Homo sapiens: one gene and its partners. The protein of the gene in region 7 purifies or fractionates together with the protein of the main gene of each other region. This does not show direct contact. Each region holds a gene or a part of one and is shown on either strand. Other genes may lie near its edges. The genes, in order: ETS1, ZNF644, SLX4, TXNDC9, SETX, SIMC1 and PIAS4.

What was found.
Region 1: the proteins of PIAS4 (region 7) and ETS1 purify together in Homo sapiens (affinity purification with western blotting; 2 studies listed by BioGRID). This does not show direct contact.
Region 2: the proteins of PIAS4 (region 7) and ZNF644 purify together in Homo sapiens (affinity purification with mass spectrometry; one large-scale study listed by BioGRID and IntAct). This does not show direct contact.
Region 3: the proteins of PIAS4 (region 7) and SLX4 purify together in Homo sapiens (affinity purification with mass spectrometry; 2 studies listed by BioGRID and IntAct, with this or other methods). This does not show direct contact.
Region 4: the proteins of PIAS4 (region 7) and TXNDC9 purify together in Homo sapiens (affinity purification with mass spectrometry; one large-scale study listed by BioGRID and IntAct). This does not show direct contact.
Region 5: the proteins of PIAS4 (region 7) and SETX purify together in Homo sapiens (affinity purification with mass spectrometry; one large-scale study listed by BioGRID and IntAct). This does not show direct contact.
Region 6: the proteins of PIAS4 (region 7) and SIMC1 purify together in Homo sapiens (affinity purification with mass spectrometry; one large-scale study listed by BioGRID and IntAct). This does not show direct contact.

The regions. Positions count from the first base shown.
Region 1 is NC_000011.10:128,577,559-128,581,058, reverse strand, and holds part of ETS1 (protein C-ets-1), read left to right. Parts: intron 1-3,500. UniProt on the Homo sapiens protein: Transcription factor. Directly controls the expression of cytokine and chemokine genes in a wide variety of different cellular contexts. May control the differentiation, survival and proliferation of lymphoid cells.
Region 2 is NC_000001.11:91,012,036-91,015,535, forward strand, and holds part of ZNF644 (zinc finger protein 644), read right to left. Parts: intron 1-3,500.
Region 3 is NC_000016.10:3,587,607-3,591,106, reverse strand, and holds part of SLX4 (structure-specific endonuclease subunit SLX4), read left to right. Parts: coding exon 1-2,105; exon of another isoform or gene 2,106-2,837; intron 2,838-3,438; exon of another isoform or gene 3,439-3,500. UniProt on the Homo sapiens protein: Regulatory subunit that interacts with and increases the activity of different structure-specific endonucleases.
Region 4 is NC_000002.12:99,322,834-99,326,333, reverse strand, and holds part of TXNDC9 (thioredoxin domain-containing protein 9), read left to right. Parts: intron 1-3,500. UniProt on the Homo sapiens protein: Significantly diminishes the chaperonin TCP1 complex ATPase activity, thus negatively impacts protein folding, including that of actin or tubulin.
Region 5 is NC_000009.12:132,344,987-132,348,486, reverse strand, and holds part of SETX (probable helicase senataxin), read left to right. Parts: intron 1-2,015; coding exon 2,016-2,226; intron 2,227-3,500. UniProt on the Homo sapiens protein: Probable RNA/DNA helicase involved in diverse aspects of RNA metabolism and genomic integrity.
Region 6 is NC_000005.10:176,241,424-176,244,923, forward strand, and holds part of SIMC1 (SUMO-interacting motif-containing protein 1), read left to right. Parts: intron 1-3,500.
Region 7 is NC_000019.10:4,010,736-4,014,235, forward strand, and holds part of PIAS4 (E3 SUMO-protein ligase PIAS4), read left to right. Parts: intron 1-2,187; coding exon 2,188-2,614; intron 2,615-3,500.

The DNA of each region.
Region 1 (3,500 bases), on a different chromosome or scaffold from region 7:
AACATCTTCTAGTCTTTCTCTTTTTCAGGAGATAGTAGCGAGTTACTCCTCAAGGAAGGGTAAAACAATATACTCTTTAAAATTATAATGACATGAGTTCATTTTAATATTCTAAGAAGGATTCGTTGAGCTATGTCAATTCATACAGGACTTGAAAGTGTTATGCTTAATTAGGAGATGGGTTTATTTTTAGAGAAATAGGAGATGGATATGACTCATTTCCATTTAAGCAAGGGTTGGCGGAATAATTATAGTGAAGTTGTGAAGAAACAAAGACTGAGATGTTAATTGTACTGTGAGTTGCTGCTCTGTAACCTTAGTGAAAGAATAAATGCACTTAGCTTAAGACACAGAAGACAGTAGCCCATAATTTGGAACACAGCCTTCATTTGTCAGTGCTGGCTACTTAAAATAAGAAGGAATATTCACTACTACTGTAATGTTGGATTACTTAGTCAAGCAAATGAGGTTCTTGTAGATTTAGTAGTGAGACAGAAAAACCATCTTCAGTTCTTCTAATCCTTTTTCTTTTCTATGCGTTGTAACCACAAAGTTTCCATGGGGAGTAAGGAATGTTCAGCTTTCCTAGATATGATGGATCTTAAACCTGAGTTCTTAGAGAATTGGATTTGGGAGCTTTTGTTACAGTGACAGGTCAGGGAAGACATCTACTCAAATGATTTGGGAAATACACGTGGGCTACTCATGAGAATCAGAAAGAACACACTGAAGGAGTATAGATGAACTCATCAATCTGGTACATCCTATAGTTTAGAGAAAAGTGCCATCTTGCTTGTAGTTAACTCTTGAGAAGCCTAACCTCAGGGTCACACAAGGACACACTTCATCACAGGGATTTTTTTTTTTTTTTTTTTTTTTTTTAATGTCCAAACGATAACTTACTCTCTTGGATAAGCTCAGGACGCACAAGGATTGTACACACCAACTCTGTTTCAAGTACTTTAGGTACTTTCCCTCATTTAGTAAACAGACACTTGTTGCATGGCTACTATGTGTCATCTGAAAAGACACCATCCTTACTCTCAAGTTACTCATCATTCAGGAGCAGAAACAGGCATAGATACAGGAAGTGTCATGAACTTTGTTACACCGTTACAGTAAATCCCATGGAGGGGCATCAAGGAGGTCCATGCAATTGCCAAAGAGGGTAGGGGGGAGGGGAAAGCTTCCTGAAAGAGGAGATACTCTGAGTCTTCAAAAATACATTTCTATAGTATTCAGAAAAAAGAAATTAAAACTCTATACATTGTAGATTAAAGATGTTGCCTTGGTAGCCCAGGTGTTGCCTTTAGTTTGGCAAAAGTGCTGTTGTTTGGAGCAAGTTTTTTTTACATGGTTAGTTGTTTTGGACACCAAATTCTTTTTTTTTTTTTTTTTTCAATGGAGTTTTGCTCTTGTTGCCGGGTGGGAGTGTAATGGCGAGATCTCGGCTCACTGCAACCTCTGCCTCCCAGGCTCAAGCGATTCTTCTGCCTCAGCCTCCCAAGTAGCTGGGATTACAGGCATGTACCACCACACCTGGCTAATTTTGTATTTTTAGTAGAGATGGAATTTCACTATGTTTGTCAGGCTGCTCTTGAACTCCTGACCTTGGGTGGTCCGCCTGCCTCGGCCTCTCAAATTGCTGGAATTACAGGCGTGAGCCACCGAGCCCAGCCCTGGAAGCCAAATTCTTTGTCTCCTGTATTCCAAGCCAAAAGGACATGCTTTTTGTTTGAATTGATAGGAATCCTAAATTATTGACATTAGGATAAATGCTCATTGGAAATCTATTCAAATTTTGCATTGTTTTCAAAGAGGAAAGGCTGGGGTGAGGGGTGGTGGGGAGAAATCTACATTTTCTGCCACAGCTTTATTGTGCTTTTGAATTCCCCATGTGCCATCTTCATACCCAGGATATGTTTTAACCATAATTCATTGCCTATGAAGCTAACATGAAGACGAGAGGGCAAGTTGAAATTTAAAACATGATGCCTTTGTCAGTGGGAGTCTAATTTTGGCTGGTCTATTATAGAATGCAGTTAGTCAATATGTATTCAAATATGGAATGCATATTTTCTTTGTCCCCAAAATGCTCTTTTTCGGCATTTAGTGGGAATGTAAAATATTTTAGGAATTTTTATAATGACAAAGAATTGGGGACAAATTAATTATACGATAATAAGAGGCTCTTTAAAAGTATGATATATACATACAATAGAATACTTGGCAGTCATCATCTTTAGGATAGACAGCCACATTTATCAACAGAGAAAAATGTCCATAGCATTATGTTAAATGTCAGTGAACAAAGCAGGTTACAAAAGAACATGTGGAGAATAATCTCATGAAGGTAAAATTGTAATCACGTGTGTGTGTGTGACATCTATGTTCGTTTAGATAGATTAAAAAATACCCAGAAGAATATTGAACAAATTATTAGTATAATTATCTCTACATGGTGAGGTTTCAGGTGATTCTAATATCCATCTGTTACTTTTTTGTATTTTAATTTTTGCGGTAACATTGTATTAGTTTGGCAAAAACTGCTGATTTCAAAAGAATTTTGTTTTCAAAAGAAAAAAATTAAAGTGTAATTTACTTGGTATTTACCTAAAAGCGTAGTTTTTCTTTTAGGAATACATAACCCCAAATGAAAAAGGCTTAACTGATGTCAAAGTTATCTAGAAATACAGCCAAGCAGGGTCAGAGTTGATGTGAACTGGATTCAGCCTTGATTCAAGCCTGGTCTCTTTGGGATTTCTTGTTCTTCTGCTGCCTTGGCCTGAACAGTCCCTCTCCTCCCTAATTTTTCCTTTATTCTGTGTCTCTCAACCTGCCCTGCCCTGCCCTGGCAAGCTTTGGGTGAAAGGAAGTGAGAGCCTACAGGTCCTGGCCGGGTTGCCAGTTTGGGGAGGGTGGGAAGTTGGAGAAGTGGTCACTCGCTCTATGAAGAATAGAACTCTCTAGAATCAAGCAGAACCATAGTTTTAAAGTGATTTTTTGGACATGAGACACCCACATAAGCCAAAGTGTTGACTTTTTTGTCTTCTCCATCTCATGCTTGTTTCTGTCCTCGCCATCCAGGGTGATGAGGGTGCTTAGAGAAGCATCTTCTCTCTCTCTCTCTTTTTTTTTTTTTTGGCTTTTTGGCAGAAGAGAATTCCCTCCCACGTGACAACTGCTTGAACATCAGCTGCACCAATTTTTTTCTTAGCATTGCACACGTTTATTGCATAAATGCAAAGCAACTGTGGCATCTGAAGATTTACTCCCCAGCTAAGCAGCATCCATGAGACCTGTTTGGGTGCAAAAATGATTTGGACGCTGGGTAACAAAGGTCTAGAGAAGCATCTTCTCTAAGCACAGGAGGAGGCTGAAGACCAGGAGTCTGGTCTCAGCTTGGCCAATTAGCAGCATCGCCTTAGTCTTTCTCCTCATTTGTAAAAAGAGGGGTTTACACTGAAAAAGTGTGTACAAGTTTTCTAACTTACACTATT
Region 2 (3,500 bases), on a different chromosome or scaffold from region 7:
AAGTCATAAAACTAACCTCTAAAGGATTACTATTAATGAACACTAAGAAGCACCTCTCTGATTTTGTCACTGGGGGGAAAAAAGGGCCATAGTACCAAATATCACCTGATTTACCTCCCAATTCATAACAATGCCAAACAAGGACAGAAGAAAAGAGAGATGGATTCAAGCATCAATTCTCACTACCCTTGGGAGGGAGGACAAATATGCCATAAGAAGTTTAGAAACAAAAACTCCAGCCCGGGCAACATGGTAAAACCCTATCTCTACTACCGAAAGAAAAAAAAAAAAAATCAGCCAGGCATGATGGCATGCACCTGTAGTTCCAGGTACTCAGGAAGCTGAAGGAGGAGGATCGCTTGAGCCTGGGAGGTGAAGGCTGCAGTGAGCTGAGATTGCGCCAATGCACTCCAGCTAGGGTGACAGACTGAGACCCTGTCTCAAAAGAAAAAAAAAGGAAGGAAAAGAAAAAGAAACAAGCAAAAACTAATTTATGGTGATAGAGGTTAGAGGTTAAAATAGTGGTTACTTCTGTAGGGAGAAATTAATAGGAGGGAGCACAAGGCACCTTTAATCAGTGAAGAAAAATATTCTACATCTCTATCTGGGTATTTCATTTAAAATAGGCTCTAATCACGGAAAATGCTTGCATTCCACAATTCTCATGTCTGTGCTTTTTTTACATCCTCTTCTCCCCAGGTGTAACCCAGTACCTCCCACTACCTGGGAGTTACCTAGGTATACTTATATGTATAAATTCACTGAGTTGTACTTAAGATTTGTGCACTTCACTGTATGTTATACCTAAAAAAAATACTTAAAAACAAGTAACCAATTAATAGCTAAATCTAAAAACCTTTTCTCAATTCTCATCCTTCTTTATCAATCTCCATCATATTGTTAATCACAGAACATCAATATTCCCTAAATGAAACACTTTCCCTTTTGAAGATCGACTAGGCTTTGTTAGGATGTTTTTTCCAGCATTTTCTGTAGTGTCATATTAATTCTCTCTAAATATTAATTCAATATTTATCTTTTTTCTTTTGTTTTTTGGAGACTGAGTCTCACTCTGTCGCCCAGGTGGGGATGCAGTGGCATGATCTTGGCTTACTGCAACCTCCGCCTCTCATGTTTAAGCAATTCTCCCGCCTCAGCCTCCCAAGTAGGTGGCATTATAGGTGCACACCACCATGCCCAGCTAATTTTTGTATTTTCAGTAGAGACGGGATATTTCATCATATTGGCCAAGCTGGTCTCAAACTCCTGACCTCAGGCGATCTGCCGACCTCAGCCTCCCATAGTGCTGGGACTACAGGCATGAGCCAATGCACCCAGTTAATTCAGTATTTATCAAGTGCTCATGTATGAGACACGAATTAGGCACCCTCCAATATATATTTCCAATCTCTCTCTCACACACACACACACACACACACACACACACATACACACACACACACACATATACACACCCAAACCAAATTCCCTAAACTGGATTCAAGCCACTCTATTACCTGGTATCAAACTGTATTTGCTGTTTTAATTCCTATCACTTCTTTATGGGAATATTCTTCTCAAGCATTTTCTGTTCTCAGCTATCCTTTACGGTTCAGTTCAATTTCTATGTTATTCTTTCCCTATACCCCATAGGACTTACTATCTGTAATTGCACTGTCCAATACAGTAACTTCATGTGGCTACTGAATACCTGAACTCTGGCTAGTCTGAATTGAGATGTGCTTTAAGTATGTAATACTAACAGATTTTGAAGACTTAACATGGTTAAAAAAAGAAAAAATGTAAAATAGTTCAATCATGTTTATATGATGAAATAATAGTATTTAGATACTGGGTTAAATAAAAATCCATTAATAAAATTTCACCTATTTATTTTATTTTTTGATGTGGCTATAGAAAATCTAAAATTGCATTTGTGGCTCAACTTATATTTCTATTGGGCAGTGCTGACCTATACAATCTATTTATAAATGCCCACAAATTACCTTTTTCTTCTTCTTCTTCTTAAACTGATAAATACAAATTGTATATATTTATGGTGTACAACACATTTTGAAATACATATAAATTATGCAATGGTTAAATCTAGCTAATTAACACATGCATTACCTCACATAGTTATATTTTGTGGTGTGAACACTTAAAATGTACTCTCCTAGCAACTTTCAAGTATGCAATATTAACTATAGTTACTATGCCCCACAAATTATCTCTTAACATATAATGTCATCTTCCCGATGAGTGCCAGAATTCAACATTAAGCTTTTTTCTTTTATGAATTAAATATTATATTAGGAATTACTAATAGTAATTAAGTGCCATTTAATTTTAATATCCCTTTAAGATTTTTAACAAGGAAGTGTAAGGCATTTCAAAGTGTTCAAATATTAAAAAAAAGTTGTTTTCAGATAGCTATAAATTATACAATTTTTCATCTATATTTTACTTATATACAATTCTAAGTCAAATGTCCCACCAGCAAGGATAGATAGCATGATTAAACCTGTAGCAATCCAAATCCCATAAAGTATTAGTTCTGATTAAGCCTGATTTTTTTCATCTTAGTCACTCAGTAAAGGGCAGCATCCATTTTGGTCAACATCATTGTACCAATGTCCAGCAGCCAAGACAAAGAGCCTTTATATGGTGGTATGAATAGACAATGAGAGCAATACGACACCACTTGAAATAAGGGGGGGGAGAAAAATGTTTTTATAATGCTAAGTTTTAAAACTAGGAGATGAAACTTACAAATTGTGTAACAACTAGGTAAAAGGATATATATGTAAGAAGAACAGGAAGGTAGAACAGAAAGGTCTCCTCTCTAGACCTTCTCAAGATATACCTAGGTTCAAACTTGGCTACTCCATTATTAAGTGGATGTGTTTCCTCACATGTAAAGTGGGAATATATACATCACAGGATTATTAAAAGAATATAGTAGATGCTTAATTAACGTCATCTGTCTTTAATACTAATAATTATATAATGGTAATAAGATTATGGGTGACTTCCCCTCCCTCACTTTCCAAATTGCTGTATTTTTCAAGCATAAATGAAAAACTTACAATTTCATACTAGTACCCCTCCTCAAATGAACCTAAAATTATTTTTACTAGCTGTCTTTGACAAATTTGCTTATAAGCTTAAAATCCGTGTTTGTGCTAGGAGGAGGTTGGTGGTAGAAAGAAAATTAAAGAGGGGGAACTGATAACTTTAACACCATACCAGCACAGACATATACAAAACAAAGTGTGGAGAGGAAAAGAGCAAAAGGAAATGCTGTTTGGGAAATTCCCAACTCAGACTATCCAATGAAAAGATTATATTCCACCCGCCTCAATCTAGCTACCTACCAGCCACTCCTCACTCTCATCTTGGGTTTATACGTACATTACAAATACGCATAGCCACTCACCTTCTTCTCTCTACTAATAGTCACCACATGGCCTCACAGTCAAAAATTGAAAGGAGAGTGA
Region 3 (3,500 bases), on a different chromosome or scaffold from region 7:
AAACGTGAATGAAGCAGAAATGGAAGAAATTTATGAATTTGCAGCTACTCAGCGAAAGCTTCTCCAGGAAGAAAGGGCAGCGGGTGCCGGCGAGGACGCTGACTGGCTGGAGGGTGGCAGTCCGGTTTCTGGGCAACTCCTAGCAGGTGTCCAGGTGCAGAAACAGTGGGACAAGGTGGAGGAGATGGAGCCGTTGGAGCCAGGAAGAGATGAGGCCGCCACCACCTGGGAGAAGATGGGACAGTGCGCTCTCCCGCCACCCCAGGGCCAGCACTCAGGGGCACGGGGAGCAGAGGCCCCTGAGCAGGAGGCGCCAGAGGAGGCGCTTGGCCATTCCAGCTGCTCCAGCCCTTCCAGGGACTGCCAGGCAGAGAGAAAAGAAGGCTCTCTTCCGCACTCAGATGATGCCGGGGATTACGAACAGCTCTTCTCATCAACTCAGGGAGAGATCTCAGAGCCGTCCCAAATAACAAGTGAGCCCGAGGAACAAAGTGGCGCTGTCAGGGAAAGGGGGCTGGAGGTTTCTCATCGCCTGGCTCCCTGGCAGGCATCTCCACCGCACCCGTGCCGCTTCCTATTGGGGCCTCCCCAGGGCGGGAGTCCCCGCGGGTCTCATCACACAAGTGGGTCGTCCCTGTCAACACCCCGGTCCCGTGGCGGAACTTCCCAGGTGGGCTCCCCAACCTTGCTGTCTCCAGCTGTGCCATCAAAGCAGAAAAGGGACAGGAGCATCCTCACGCTGTCTAAAGAGCCAGGGCACCAGAAAGGCAAAGAGCGTCGGTCCGTGCTGGAGTGCAGAAATAAGGGGGTCCTGATGTTCCCAGAAAAATCTCCGTCTATTGACCTAACCCAGTCAAATCCTGACCATTCGAGCTCCAGATCTCAGAAATCTTCATCCAAACTGAACGAAGAAGATGAGGTCATCCTCTTACTGGACTCGGATGAGGAGCTGGAGCTAGAACAAACCAAAATGAAGTCCATTTCTAGTGATCCTCTGGAAGAAAAGAAAGCTCTAGAAATTAGCCCTAGGTCCTGTGAGCTGTTTTCCATCATTGATGTTGATGCAGATCAGGAACCTTCCCAGAGCCCACCAAGAAGCGAAGCTGTGCTGCAGCAGGAGGATGAGGGGGCGCTGCCGGAGAATCGGGGCTCTTTGGGCAGGAGAGGGGCTCCCTGGCTGTTCTGTGACCGTGAGAGCAGCCCCAGCGAGGCCAGCACCACAGACACCTCGTGGCTGGTGCCCGCCACCCCGCTGGCCAGCAGAAGCCGTGACTGTTCTTCCCAGACCCAAATCAGCAGCCTCAGGAGCGGGCTGGCCGTGCAGGCGGTGACTCAGCACACGCCCAGGGCCTCAGTAGGAAACAGGGAAGGGAACGAAGTCGCACAGAAGTTTTCTGTCATCAGGCCCCAGACACCACCGCCCCAGACACCGTCCTCATGCCTCACTCCCGTCTCTCCAGGAACTTCTGACGGCAGAAGGCAAGGCCACAGAAGCCCTTCCCGTCCCCACCCCGGGGGCCACCCGCACTCCTCTCCGCTGGCTCCACATCCCATCTCAGGGGACCGCGCCCACTTCAGCAGGCGGTTCCTGAAACACTCGCCGCCTGGGCCAAGCTTCCTGAACCAGACCCCAGCGGGTGAAGTGGTGGAAGTCGGAGACAGTGACGATGAGCAGGAGGTGGCCTCCCATCAGGCCAACAGAAGCCCCCCACTGGACAGTGACCCCCCAATTCCAATTGACGACTGCTGCTGGCACATGGAGCCCCTCTCGCCAATTCCCATTGACCACTGGAACCTGGAGCGGACCGGCCCCCTGAGCACCAGCAGCCCCAGCCGCAGGATGAACGAGGCCGCCGACAGCCGTGACTGTCGCTCCCCGGGACTCCTGGACACCACCCCCATCCGAGGAAGCTGCACTACCCAGAGGAAATTGCAAGAGAAGTCCTCGGGCGCGGGCTCCCTGGGGAATAGCAGGCCGAGCTTTCTGAATTCGGCTCTGTGGGACGTTTGGGACGGGGAAGAGCAGAGGCCTCCAGAGACCCCTCCTCCGGCCCAGATGCCAAGCGCTGGTGGAGCTCAGAAGCCCGAAGGGTTAGAGACACCCAGTGAGTAGCCAGGAGAGCTGGGGAAGGGGACTGTCTTTGTTACTATTTTACACTAAGAGGGTGGGAAGATCAGTCATGAGACCCAGGGGCTGCCCTCTGAATGCCTGCTGACCTGAGGCATGACACTTCCGCTGCCTTCCAGACTCCCCTCCACAGTGGAGGAGAGCCGGGCTGGTTCTCATGCTACACTTCTCAGCCAGTAAGTCAGTGTTTCCCAAACTTGCCTGGCTCCAGTGCTCACCTGGGCATGTGTTAAAAATCCACATCTGTGGACCCTTCTCCAGAACACGGAGCCGGCACCTCCAAAGGCCACAACTCATTCAGCAAGTATCGGCATGCCTTAAGATTGGACCAGGGTGGTTCTCCAGAATGTTAACCGTAGATTGACTGCAGGACCCAGCAATTCCACTTTTACCTGTATATCCAAAAGAATTAAAAACAGGGACTCAGACATGCATGTTCATAGAAGCGCTGTTCACAATCGCCAAAAGCTGGAAGCAACCCAAATGCCCGTCAGGAGATGAACAGGGAAACCAAACGTGGTCCATCTAGACCACTAGAAAATGGAATAGTGTTCAGCCACAAAGAGGAGTGAGGCACTGCCACACGCTACCGCGTGGACGACCCAGAAAACATGCTGCCGGGTGAGAGAAGCCAGACATAGAAGGTCATGTACTGTCTGCACTCATGGATATGAAATGTCTAGAATAGGCAAATCCAGAGAAAATGCAGGTTAGTGGTTGGCCTGGGTTGGAGGGAGGGGGAATGGGGAGTGACTGCTTATGGGATACAGGGTGTCCTTTTGGGGTGGTGAAAATGTTTTGCAAATAGATAGAGGTGATGGTTGTACAACATTGTGAATACTTAATGCCACTGAATTATTCCCTTTACGATTTTTTTATGTGAATTTCACCTCAATTAAAAAAAGAATCAGGTGGGACAAGTGTGAGAGGCTGTTAGGCCTGTTCTTCCTGGTCCTCCCAGGTGCAGGGATGCCACCTCCCTGCTCATTTCAGTCCCCGGGGAGAGTCAGAGCCCCAGGTGTCGGCCCCCTCGGTGCTGCTGCTCCCATCCAGGCACCTCCGGGGAGGGCAAGGACAGGCCGGGCTGGGCTGAGCATGACTGGGAGAAAGGCCAGGCTGTGAGTGAGCACCTGCCTGCGGCCTGGGGGCCCATTTCCTCCCAAAATCCAGATGAATGAGGCCACTGATAGTGTCCTCGGCCCTCAGGGGCTTCAGAAACACCTGGAGAGCTTCTTATAGCACGCCCGTGGCCCAGCCTGCCCCAGAGCCTTGCTTCGGGAGGGTGACTAAGAATTTGCATTTCTAACCAGTTCCCAGGCAGTGCTGTGAGAACAGCTGCAGGAGGCTGCACAGCAGATCTGAGGTGGGCTTC
Region 4 (3,500 bases), on a different chromosome or scaffold from region 7:
CTTGATCTCACAACCCAACAGCTTCATTGTTAGTTAACACCTTTCAAGAATTGATTGCCTGGTATTCATTGACTAAGAGAATAAAAATGAAACAAAATATTGAGATGGTGAAATCCCTTGTGAGGAACAGTGAGAGAAGGGATTAGGCAGGTAGAAAGGTATCAGAGAAACCTCTGCCCTTATGGTACACAACCATCTCGCATTGGCACACATTCCTCAAGTTGCCAACCTCTGACAAATATGATGAGGTGATATATAAATATACTAGTATGTAAAATATTATTTGTCCACTTGTTTTTTTTTTGTTGTTTTTTTTTGTTTTTGAGACAGAGTCTTACACTGTCACCCAGGCTAGAGTGCAATGGCAGGATCTTGGCTCACTCCAACCTCCACCTCCCGGGTTCAAGTGATTCTCCTGCCTCAGCCTCCCGAGTAGCCAGGGCTACAGTCACCCACCACTACACCCGGCTAACTTTTGTCTTTTTAGTAGAGACAGGGTTTCTCCAGATTGGCCAGGCTGGTCTCAAACTCTTGACCTCAGGTGAACCACCCACCTTGGCCTCCCAAAGTGTTGGGATTACAAGTATGAGCCACGGCACCCGGCCTCACTTGTTTTTTTTATGTCTTTCCCAACTAGATTGTTCGTTTTGTAGAGGCAGCGCATTTGCCTGTATTGTGACCTACTGTTCTCTGGGATCATAGCCCTAAAGCAACTGCCTGACGCATAGTAGGTGGTCAATAAATACATTTGATGGTGTATAAACAGTGCATCACCAGGAGTACTCACCTTCAAACAGAACTGAAAAATCAAAATCATCCAGTGAACTTTATATATTAGCAAAGTTCCTAGCACATAGTAGGCAGGATGCTTTCATGTATATTATCCCTAGAACATTCACAATAATCTTCAGAGGCACTTATTATTATTCCTGTATTTCATGTATGGAAACCAAGATTTGGAGAAATTGACTCACCTAGTATCACTCAGATACTAAATGATAAAAAAAAGAGAGAGATTGGAACCCATGTTTTAAGCCTATTGCTATTTTTTTAATTTTTAACTTTTGTGGGTAGTAGTAGGTAAATATGGGGTACATGAGATATTTTAACACAGGCATGCAGTGTTTAATAATCACATCAGGGTAAATGGAATATCCATCACCTCAAGCTTTTATCCTTTGTGTTATAAACAATCTAATTATGCTCTTTTAGTTATTTTTAAACATACGTAAAGGCCTATAGCTATTTATACCATGACTGTTGTTTTGGATTTTTAAAAATTGATTGACGGGTTGGGCGCCATGGCTCATGCCTGTAATCCCAGTACTTTGGGAGGCTGAGGCAGGTGGATCATGAGGTCAGGAGATCAAGGCCATCCTGGCCAACATGGTGAAAACCCATCTCTACTAAAATACAAAAAGTTAGCTGGGCATGGTGGCTCGTGCCTGTAGTCCCAGTTGTGCAGGAGGCTGAGGCAGGGGAATTGCTTGAACCTGGGAGGCGGAGGTTGCATTGAGCTGAGATCGTGCCACTGCACTCCAGCCTGGCAACAGAGCAAGACACTCTGTCTTGCTCTTTAAATACAAATTAAAATTAGCCAGGCAATGGTGCGGGTGCCTGTAATCCTAGCTTCTTAGGAGGCTGAGCCAGGAGAATTGCTTGAACCCAGGAGGTGGAGGTTGCAGTGAGCAGAGGTCGTGCCACTGCACTCTAGCCTGGGCGACAGAGCGAGACTCCATCTCAAAAAAAAAATACGTTCCTTACTGCAGTTAAAGTATGGAGTTGATTTATTTACAAATTTTCAGGAACATATTTCTCATATAAAGGTTGATTTATCATTTGTTTTGAGCTTTATTTAAAAACCATTTATTAATTTGTTCTCTCTTACCATTTTTCACTGAAATCTCGTTACTGAACTACATGAGTAACATATGAAAAAACATATCCGGGGAAAAAGTGATGAGGCACCAAGGTTACACATAACTTATGTTAGAGCCAAACTTAGTTCAGGAAAAACTACATCAAGTGCACAAAAAGCTTACTGGTAAAAATAACCATGAAGTATTTTGTGTGTGAGTCATCTAGAGGTAGTTCTCAAGCTTTATTTGAGCATAAGAACAGCTGTATGTTTCCCAACTCCACTGCCAGAGAATTTTGATTCATCTGGATATTTTAAAAGTTGACGGCAGGCTGGGTGTGGTAGCTCACACCTCTAATCCCAGCACTTTGGGAGGCTGAGGCAGGTGGATTGCTTGAGGTCAGCAGTTCAAGACCAGCCTAGTCAACATGGTGAAACCCCATCGCTACTAAAAATACAAAAATTAGCCGGGCGTGGTGGCAGGTGCCTGTAATCCCAGCTACTCGGGAGGCTGAGGAAGGAGAATCGATTGAACCCAGGAGGCAGAGATTACAGTGAGCCGAGATCGCGCCACTGCACTGCAGCCTGGGTGACAGAGTGAGAGTCCAACTCAAAAAAGATGAATAAATAAAAGTTGATCATAATGAACACCTGGGGTTAAGAACCACCGGTCTAAAAGATTGTTACAATAGTCTGTTTTAGAAACACTCGTGAATTGGCCAGTTGAAAATGAATTTTTTGAGACAGAGTCTTACTCTGTCGCCTAGCCTGGAGTGCAGTGGTGTAATCTTAGCTCACTGTAACCCCCACCTCCCAGGTTCAAGTGATTCTCGTGCCTCAGCCTCCTGTGTAGCTGGGATTTCAGGTGCCCATCATGACGCCCAGCTAATTTTTGTATTTTTAGTAGAGATGGGGTTTCACCATATTGACCAGGCTGGTCTTGAACTCTTGGCCTCAAGTGATCTGCCCGCCTCAGCCTCCCAAAGTGTTGGGATTACAGGCGTGAGCCACTGCATCAGGCCAGAAAATAAATTTTAATGTAAAGAAGATGTCACTTTTTTTGTTTGTTGAGATGGAGTCTCACTATGTTGCCCAGGTTGGAGTACAACGGCACAGTTTCGGCTCACTGCAGCCTCCACCTCCCAGGTTCAAGTGATTCTCCTGCCTCAGCCTCCCAAGTAGCTGGGACTACAGGCATGCACCACCACACCCAGCTAATTTTTGTATTTTTAGTAGAGACAGGGTTTCACCGTGTTGGCTAAGCTGGTCTCAAACTACTGACTTCAAGTGATCCGCCTGCCTCAGCCTCCCAAAGTGCCAAGATTACAGATGTGAGCCACCGCACCTGGCCAAGAAAATCTCACTTCTGTTTCCGTCTTCATTGGAAGATGGCTTAATAAAAGTTACTACTGGTAGGCTGGGTGCAGTGGCTCACGCTTGTAATCCTAGCACTTCGGGAGGCCGAGGCAGGCGGATCACAAGGTCAGGAGATCAAGACCATCCTGGCTAACACAGTGAAACCCCGTCTCTACTAAAAATACAAAAAATTAGCCGGGCATGGTGGCAGGCGCCTGTAGTCCCAGCTACTTGGGAGGCTGAGGCAGGAGAATGGCATGAACCAGGGAGGCGGAGCTTGCAGTGA
Region 5 (3,500 bases), on a different chromosome or scaffold from region 7:
TCATTGGGAGGGGATTTGTTTCATAATTTTTTGGTCAGTGCTATAATACATGCATGTATCTGAGTATCTGAATGGCCTGGGTTTTTGTTAGTGGGTTGTTTTTTTTTTGTTTTGTTTTTTTTTTGAGACAGAGTCTCACTCTCTTGTCCAGGCTGGAGTGCAGTGGCGTGATCTTGGCTCACTTCAACCTCTGCCTCCCAGGTGGGTTCAAGCGATTCTCCTGCCTCAGCCTCCCAAGTAGCTGGGACTAAAGGCACGTGCCACCACACCCGGCTAATTTTTTATTTTTAGTAGAGATGGGGTTTTACCATGTTGGCCCAGCTGGTCTCAAAACTCCTGACGTCAGGTGATCTGCCCACCTCGGCCTCCCAAAGTGCTGGGATTACAGCTGTGAGCCACTGCGCCTGGCCAGGGTTTTTTTTTTTTAATTGGTAATAATAACTTCTTTTTTTCTTTTTTTAATGGGCAAATGGCATAAACCTTTAAGGGCAAGCATATTTTCCAGTCATGATAACAAAAGTGAAAGATATAATTCTAAATATTTGGCTTTGAATATTTGGTTTATTTATTGATGAAAAACAGAACGTAGACCATAGAGATATATACAGTATATAGAGGAGAGGATGATTAGTAATGGACTTGTGTTGAGAAACGTGCACTTTATAAAGTTTTCTAATTATGAAGCTATCCAGCGTCTTTTATACCACAAGCTGCACTAAGGTAGTTAGCTATGGCTAGAACATAGAAGGGAAGACATAGAAGGGCCTCGGTTTTGCATTTGACAGAGAGGCTCCAGCTTCTCTTTTTTTTTTTTTTGAATGTAGTTGATAGGGATGTTGAGATATTTATAGAAAACTTCTACAAGAGAAGTGTTTAAGGCTGAGTGCTGTAGCTTACACCTGTAATCCCAGCACTTTGGGATGCTGAGGCAGGTGGATTACGAGGTCAGCAGTTTGAGACCAGCCTGGCCATCATGGTGAAAGTCCGTCTCTACTAAAATACAAAAATTAGCCAGGCGTGGTGGTGGGCGCCTGTAATCCCAGCTACTCAGGAGGCTGAGGCAGGAGAATCGCTTGAACCTGGGAGGCCAAGGTTGCGGTGAGCTGAGACCACGCCATTGCACTCCAGCCTGGGCGACAGCGAGATTCTGTCTCAAAAAAAAATAAAAAGTGTTTAAACATAGCATACTATTTTTTGTTTTCTTGTTTTTTTTCGTTTGTTTGGTTTTTTGTTTGAGATGGAGTTTCCCTGTTGTTGCCCAGGCTGGAGTGCAGTGGCGTGATCTTGGCTCACTGCAACCTCCGCCTCCTGGGTTCAAGCGATTCTCCTGCTTCAGCCTCCCGAATATGGGATTACAGGCATGCACCACTACGCCTGGCTATTTTTGTATTTTTAGTAGAGACGAGGTTCCTCCGTGTTGGTCAGGGTGGTTCTGAACTCCCGACCTCAGGTGATCCGCCCACCTCAGCCTCTCAAAGTGCTGGGATTACAGGCAGGAGCCAGTGTGCCTGGCCTGTTTTCTTTTTCTCTTAGAGGCAGGGTTTCCCTATGTCATCCAGACTGGAGTACAGTGGCACAATCATAGCTCACTGTAGCTTCAGATTCTTGGGCTCAAGTGATCCTTTTGCTTCAGCCTCCAGAGAAGCTAGGACTGTAGGCATGCACCACACCTAGCTAATTTTTCTATTTTTTTTTTTTTTAGTGACAGGGTCTTGCTTTGCTACCCAGGCTGGTCTCGAACTCCTGACCTGAAACAGTCCTCCTACCTCAGCCTTCCAAAATGCTGGGATTACAGCTGTGAGCCACTGTGCCTAGCCAATATCTCATACTCTGTGTACTCACTTTTCATAAAAGTGGCCACATTTGAATAGTTTTCTTTAAATCTAAAATACAAGCTCTAATACTTTACATTTCAGAATTTTTGTACTTAGGAAAAGGCTTTCTAGGTCGTCACATTCAGTGTATTTTGTTGATGATAAGACATAACGCACACTGCCCATTTTATTTTCCTCTAGGTTTTATGGGAATTAGAAACCTTACGTCTCATAAATCACTTTGAAAAATCCATGAAGGCAGAAATTGGAGATGATGATGAGTTATATATAGTAGACAATAATGGAGAGATGCCACTGTTTGACATCACTGGGCAAGACTTTGAAAATAAGCTTCGAGTTCCTCTTCTTGAAATACTGAAATATCCTTACTTGCTTCTACATGAACGTGTTAGTGAGTATCTTGATGGTTCCTCAAGTTATATCAGTTTTATTATTTTAGTACCATAAGAATTTAGGCTTATCTATATTGCAAATTTGTTTGCTAAACATATAATTAGGATATATAATTAGGACTTCATTTTTTTTCCAACGTTTTTTATTTTTTGAGTTCAAACACAAAATACCTATTTTTGGGGCACAGTTCAAACTTATCTTGTTCAGAGGGTAACTGAAGATTGTTTTTATTTTTTTTTAGAGACAGGGTCTTGCTGTGTCTCCTAGGCCGAAGTGCAGTGGCGCAGTCATGGCCCACTGCAGCCTCTACCTCCTGGGCTCAAGTAATACTCCTGCCTGAGCCTTGTGGGTAGCTGGGAGTACAGGCGTGTGCCATTGCGTCCAGCTAATTTTATGTTGTGTTTATTGTAGAGATGAAGTTTCACTGTTGCCCAGGCTGGTGTTGAACTCCTGGGCTCAAGCAGTCCTCCCACCTCAGCTTCCCAAATTGCTGGGATTATAGGCACGAGCCACTATGCCTGGCTCTCAACATTTTATTGTGAAAATTTTTTAACATAGAAAAGTAAATTATACAGTGAACATGATATACCCATCACATAGTTTATACGGTTGTTAACATTTTGCTATATTTGCTTTATTACGTATCTGTTCACCTCTTTGTTCAATTATTAATAATTTTCATTCTCGCCGGGCATGGTGGCTCACGCCTGTAATCCCATCATTTTGGGAGGCTGAGGCAGGCAGAGCACCTGAGGTCAGGAGTTCAAGACCAGCCTTGCTAACATAGTGAAACCCTGTCTCTACTAAAAATACAAAAATTAGCCAGGTGTGGTGGCAGGCACCTGTAATCCCAGCTACTCAGGAGGCTGAGGCAGGAGAATCACTTGAACCTGGAAGGCGGAGGTTGCAGTGAACCAAGATTGTGCCACTGCACTCCAGCCTGGGTGACAGACAGAGACTCTGTCTTAAAAAATAGTAATAATAATAATTTTCATTCTTGTAGTATGTCTGTGGCAGGGTTTCTCAGCCTTGCATTGGTGACATTTTGGATAATCCTTTGCTGTGGGCTGTGCCGTCCATTGTAGGATGTGTAGCAGCATCCCTGGCCTTTGTCTACTAAATGCCGCTAGCACTCCCTATCTCCTTTGTGACAACCAAAAATGTCTCCAGACATTGCTGAATACCCCTTTTGGGGGGTGAGGTATAAAATCACCCCTGGTTGGGAAATGCTATTCTGTAGTAATTTTCATTAACCACTATGGCATGGCTTAT
Region 6 (3,500 bases), on a different chromosome or scaffold from region 7:
TATTATGCCTTCGTTTCTAAATTTTCTCTAAGAACCCAGTGAAAAATTCCCTCATAATCTTTGTACTCTTGTTCATTTGTTTATTAAGTTCCTCTTAGAAGTTAGATTGCTGAGTCAAAAGGTGTGCCCTACTTTATATGTAGCTAACCCTTGAAGAACACGGGGATTAGGGTTGCTAACCCCCCCGTGCAGTTGAAAATTTACATGTAACATTTGACTCCTCGAAAACTTAACTACCAGTGGCCTACTGTTGACTGGAAGCCTTACCAGTAACATAAGCAGTTAACTCATGTTTTGTATGTTATATGGACTCTTACGATAAAGTAAGCAAGAGAAAAATGTTAAGATCATAAGGAAGATAAAATACATTTACAGTACTATACTGCATTTGTCAATACCATAGGTTTACATCGTCTGTTTACAAGATAAATCATCTGTCTGAAATAGGGGACAACCACAGCTGCAGACCTCTATCTACGGTACATCTCAAGCGATTCAGCTTTTCTTATGTCATGACTTTTCTCTGTTTCTTGAGAGCACATCCAGCATCACTAAGCACTTTGTATGGGTTTCATGGTGTTATTCAAGGTTTACGATATTACCCTACACATGATTAAACAAGTATATGTGGAAAAAAACCCAGGAGAGAACACTTGTTACCGTGATACACAGTTTACTGGGAAGTAGTGCAGAAATTGATTAGTGTCACGTGGCGTTTTAAGTGGATCCTCACAACACTTGAGCCCACCACAGCAGCAGCAGATGTCTGTGGTAGTAGGACATTATTATCACGGTAGTACAGTGTAGTCTATGGTAAATTTTATGCAGTTGTGATACAAATTAAAAAGAAAAAAATAATGAATTTAAAAATATGCAGTTGTGAGTTAATATTGCATCTTTACATTTCTGTCAACTGCAGATGTCACCATCTATGGTCAGTAAGTGATTGTGTGCATAAATTTTGATAAAGTTTAACTTTGTATAATAGATTTGTGTTGATTTTATGGTAGTAAATGGATAAAATAGGCTAGTATCTACATATATTTTATGCATTCAGGACATATCTTTTTCTTAGTTTTTTTCAATTTTTATAGGCTGTGGAGTTCATCTGTGAGTTTTCCAAATTGTTATAAATCGCCAAAAAATTTTCCAATATATTTATTGAAAAAAACTCTCTTGTAAGTGGACCCATGCAGTTCAAACCTGTGTTGTTCATGAATCAACTGTATTGCCAAATTTCCTACAGAAATTGTGCATTAATATTCTTACCAGTGGTATATGGCCAATCATATCTCTTTCTCTGCTGCCTAGTCACCCCTAGGTATTGTTACATTATTCCATAAATATTTATTGAACACTTATTATATACCAGGCACTCTTAGAGGTGCTGGGAATACATCTATGAAAACCAAGTCCCTGCCGTCATGGAGATTTCATTTTACTGAGGGGACACAGATAGTAAACAACACTATAAATGTAATGTCAGGTGATAATACAGAGTGTTAGGGGAAAAAATACGGTATTTTTGTTCTTTTAATCTTTGCTGTTTGATAGCCAGATTCCATAAGATGTCATTATTTTTTATTTTTTTATTATGATTCATTTATTCAATAAATATTTATTGAGCATATGCTGTAACCCTGGGGACCAGAGGTGAACAAGATGATAATGGAACTACATTCTACTGTGGAAAGATAGGCAGTAAACAAACTAACAAATAAGAGAACAGTATAATAGTAACTTTGGTGGGATTGGGAACATTTGATTGTGTTTTCAGAGAAGGCCTCTCTGAAGAGTTAATATTTGACCTGAGACTAAAATGACAACAAATTAGTTATAAGATCTAGATGAATAAGGCATTGTCAAAGGGAACAACAAAACCAAAAGTTTGGAGGCGGGAATGAGCATGACTTACTGGAAGAATGGAAAGCCAGTGAGGCTGCAATGTAACGACTGATGGACAGAGTCAGAAGAGATGAGAAGTAGGTAGGTTAGGTTATAGGGCTTTGGAGACCACAATAAGGGATTTGGATTTTATTGTAATACAGTAAGAAATCTTTGAAGGTTTAAGCAGGACAGTGACATGATTTGATTTACTTTTTTTTTTTTTGGAGATGGAGTCTTGCTCTGTTGCGTTGCCCAGGCTGTAGTGCAGTGGTGCGATCTCGGCTCACTGCAACCCCCACTTCCCAGGTTCAAGCAATTTCCCCCACCTCAGCCTCCCGAGTAGCCGGGACTACAAGCACACCACCACGCTTGACTAATTTTTTGTATTTTAGTAGAGACGGGGTTTCACCATGTTGGCCAGGATGGTCTAGATCTCCTGACCTCATGATCCACCCGCCTCGGCCTCCCAAAGTGCTGGGATTACAGGCGTGAGCCACTGCACCTAGCCTTGATTTACATTTTTTAGAGATGACTTTAGCTACTGTGAAAAGAAAAGATGGTAAGGTAGGGAGACCATATAATTTATCATCCAATTGGGAAACTTTTGCAAATGAAAAGGGATGCTAACTGGACCAGGATGTCAAGCAACAGGTGAAAACTGGAACTGTCCCAAACAAAGCAGAAGTGTAGTCACCCTACTGTAAGAGGGGAAGAGTGAAATTAGGGAGATCAGTTAGAAGGTTGGCTGTAGTAGTCCAGGTCAGAAATAACTGTAGCTTGGACTGGAGTGGTGGTACAGACTGGGAGAGTGGAGGGATGTAGATATTTAGTAAATAAAATCAACAGGTCCTGATAACTTGGATGTGGATAACAAGGGAAAGGAAGGAATGAAGAAGGATGCCCTGAGTTCTGGCTTGAGCAACTGAATGCATGTTGGTGTCATGCATTGAAATGAAGCAGACTTGGGAGGAACAGGGTTAGAGGAAAGATTCAAGAGTTCTGTTTTGAAGGTATAAAACTTAACGATGCCTGTGGAATAGCCAACTGGAGATGCCAAGTATAACATTTGTACTGAGTTTAGAGCTCTGAAGAAAAGTCCTGACTAGAGATACAAATTTAGTCTTGTTAGCGCATAGGTTATAGTGAAGTCATTGACCTGGATAAAATCATCTAGGTTGAGGTGACAAGAGGAAGAACATCCAGAACCTAGCCCAAGGGAACACCATAGTGTCCCAAGGGAGGAAGAGCAGCTAGTGAGGTTGGAGATAAAGGAGTGTGCTCACATGCAGTACAGCCAGACATCTTGCTTATGTTTATTGGAAACACATAGGGTATGTGTGCAAATTCCCTATGCTTGTCCTTTGCCCATTTTTCTGTTGCAGTGTTATAATGTTTCTTTTTTTTTTTCCTTTTTTTTTTTTTTTTTTTGAGAGGGAGTTTCACTCTTGTTGCCCAGGCTGGAGTGCAATGGCGCAATCTCAGCTCACTGCAACCTCCACCTACCTGGCTCAAGTGATTCTCCTGCCTCAGACTCCCAAGCAGCTGGGATTACAGGCATGTGCCACCATGCCCAGCTAATTTTATATTTTTAGTAGAGACAGGGTTTTACCATG
Region 7 (3,500 bases):
TACACGATGGGTGTCCTCATTGTGAAATTAGCGACACAGGCCTTGCTGGTGCCTGGTAGGGAGCAAGACGCTGGCATCCCGATTCTTTACAGTCACGGGGCCCCGCAGCCCTGATATGGGAAGAGGCTTCTCCCGAGGCTCTTTGGGCAGGGCTGGGCCGCCTGCACGTGTGTCCCTGTCATTTTGAGCCTGGACAGCCTCTCCGTCTCCAACAGGACCCTGGCCCGATACAGCTGGAAGAAATCAGAGCTGACAGATGAGGACCCGACAGTGGGCCCCGGCTGCTGCAGCTTTGGTGCTGAAATGTGCGGCTAGGCTCCTGGTCTCACCCTGGGGCAGCCAGGAGCCGGAAACCTCAGCGCCTCCTGGCACGGAGGCTGCAGTTTACATACCCCACTGGGACTGCCTCTGGCTTCGACCCTCAGGGTCTTTCGAGTGGAGTTTGAATGGTTTATTGGTTTCTTCGGGTACCCGCCAGCTTTCCTTAACACCCTTGACGCTTGAGCTTTCTCCCCATTCCTCCTGGAAGCTACTGTTTCCCACCACATCTCATTCATCCCAGGCCAGCTTCAGGGCTAAGGGTGGGTGGCCCTGAAACCCTGCCAGCCCATCCCTCGAGGACACCTGGCTTCTGCAGCCTGTTGAGGAGCCTTCCTTCCCCTTCAGGGTCCTACCCCTCATGGAGGTCAGGCCACTGCCAGTCTACCCCACCTCAAACACCAGGGTCAGCTGGGCTCTGCTGTTTGGTTTTTATTTCGCTGGAGAGGCCCGGCCAGGCGATGAGGGCCAGGTCCTGCCAAGCCTCATTTGTCGCTTTGACCCAGGTCCTGCAACAGCCCCTGTGGCTGCTATCTTCCCCTTGGACCGGTCCCCCAGGGACTCAGGGCAACGTGTGGAGGTGTGTTTGGTGTGGAGGTGTGTTTGGTGTGGAGGTGTGGGGGGTGTGGAGGTGTGTGGGGTGTGGAGGTGTGTGGGGTGTGGAGGTGTGTGGGGTGTGGAGGTGTGTGGGGTGTGGAGGTGTGTGGGGTGTGGAGGTGTGTGGGGTGTGGAGGTGTGTGGGGTGTGGAGGTGTGTGGGGTGTGGAGGTGTGTGGGGTGTGGAGGTGTGTGGGGTGTGGAGGTGTGTTTGGTGTGGAGCTGTGGGGTGTGGAGGTGTGGGGGGTGTGGAGGTGTGTGGGGTGTGGAGGTGTGTGGGGTGTGGAGGTGTGTGGGGTGTGGAGGTGTGTGGGGTGTGGAGGTGTGTGGGGTGTGGAGGTGTGTGGGGTGTGGAGGTGTGTGGGGTGTGGAGGTGTGTGGGGTGTGGAGGTGTGTGGGGTGTGGAGGTGTGTGGGGTGTGGAGGTGTGTTTGGTTGTCGTGAGCTGTGGGTATTTAGCACCACACAGAGCCCAGGATGGCCCCAGTGTCCACAGGGCCAAGGAGGAGAAACCCTGCCTGGGATGATCAGCAGATGTTTCGGAGGCCCCCACAGGCCCAGCCCTGTGTTGACATCCAGAGGGTAGTGTGGCAGCAAGAACCGCCCCTGGCTTCAGAGCCAGGCCTGGGTTCGAATCTTGGCGCTGCCACCTCTGAGCCGACAGTTCCTCATTTGTGACAGAGCTCACACACCAGCCTAGCAGGGGTGTTTTAAGGATCAGAGTTAAATATATAATCACATGACCGGCTTGGTTCCCGGCAGGTGATTAGTACTAAGTAAACTGTGGCTACCGTTGGCGAGACCGAAGGGAAAACATATCTGTGGCTGACATGGGTTGAGCGCCCGCCCAGCCAGTGCTTTATGTCATTATCCTCCCGACGTAGAGACTGAGGGTCAGAGAGGCATTTGGTGTTTGCCGGTAAGGCACTGGCAGAGGCTGTTTACAAGTAAAGCACAATTGTCAGTTCCTGCCCTGGGGATGCTTTCAGGCTGAAGACAGGGAAAGAGAACCTAAAATAGAAGGGGGGGCCTAGTCAGAGGCGCTTTTGCTGCGTTGGCGATGCTGGGGAAAGTTTGATGAGGAGGAGGGAGGGGGCAGGGCTTTGCTGGGAGGGGGCACCGTAGGGGCAGGGCACTCCACCAGCCCCAGCCAAGGCTGGCGCTTCCTGGCGAGTGGGTGTCTTTCACGGCCCCCACATCGGGGCCTGGCCTCCATGGAGTCCCCTGCCTCGCAGCTGTGTCCTCTGAGTGTGTGTGTGCTTGCTCCTCCTCAGAACATGGTGATGAGTTTTCGAGTCTCCGACCTTCAGATGCTCCTGGGTTTCGTGGGCCGGAGTAAGAGTGGACTGAAGCACGAGCTCGTCACCAGGGCCCTCCAGCTGGTGCAGTTTGACTGTAGCCCTGAGCTGTTCAAGAAGATCAAGGAGCTGTACGAGACCCGCTACGCCAAGAAGAACTCGGAGCCTGCCCCACAGCCGCACCGGCCCCTGGACCCCCTGACCATGCACTCCACCTACGACCGGGCCGGCGCTGTGCCCAGGACTCCGCTGGCAGGCCCCAATATTGACTACCCCGTGCTCTACGGAAAGTACTTAAACGGACTGGGACGGTTGCCCGCCAAGACCCTCAAGCCAGAAGTCCGCCTGGTGAAGCTGCCGTTCTTTAATATGCTGGATGAGCTGCTGAAGCCCACCGAATTAGGTGAGTGGTCACCCTGGGGAGGCTGCGACTGGAGGCTTCACCTAGGCCCCGTCGCCCAGCCCAGCCCAGCCACACAGCCGACTTCGAGTGATGTTCTCTGTGGCGCAGCCAGGGCGGGGAGCCACAGTGGCCAGGGGTGTCCTTCCTCGGAAGCAAAGGGACCATCTTTGATATTGGTCACCCCTTGCTGTGTTACAAGTTACCCCGAAATGGAGCCACTGGAAGCAGGGGGCGTCTGTTAGCTCTCAGGAACCTGTGAGCTGTGTTGCGGGGCATTGGGGCTTGGGGGCTCTCATGAGGCTCAGTCAGGCTGGAGCCACCTCATCTGGAGGCTCGACCAGGGCTGGAGCAGGCACATCCTTGTGTGGTGGCTGGCAGGCCTCAGCTCCTCGCCAGCTCTTGGCCACAGTCCCCAGGTCCTCATGGTGCGGACTCCTGCACGGATTGCCTGGGCGTCCTCAGCCTGGTGGCTCCCTCACCCTAGGGTAGCGAGTGTGCACCTCCAAGCTGGGAGCTGGAGCCCTTTTTATAACCCAACCTCGGACACGCCTCGCCATCTCCCCCACAGAGTCCGTTGCTCACACAGACTCTGTGGCGCATGCAGGGACCACACCAGGCTGTGACTGCCAGGGCCAGGGGTGACCAGGGCCACCTGGGAGCCTGGTTTCCCTGCTTATTCCCCTTGGAAAGGGGGCTGGCCAGTGGCATCCTTCCCCCGGGCTCTGGTTCCTCGCTGGCAGCCTGCAGGAGTGTCCTTGGTCAGTGGGCTCAGGTCACTGCCAGGCTGTGTGCACCGGGCGTGCTGGGGGTTCAGGGCGATCCCAGGCGGAGGAGAGGTGCTGGGCTCCACGCTTCTCTCTCTCGTGTCTTTGTCTGCAAGCACTGA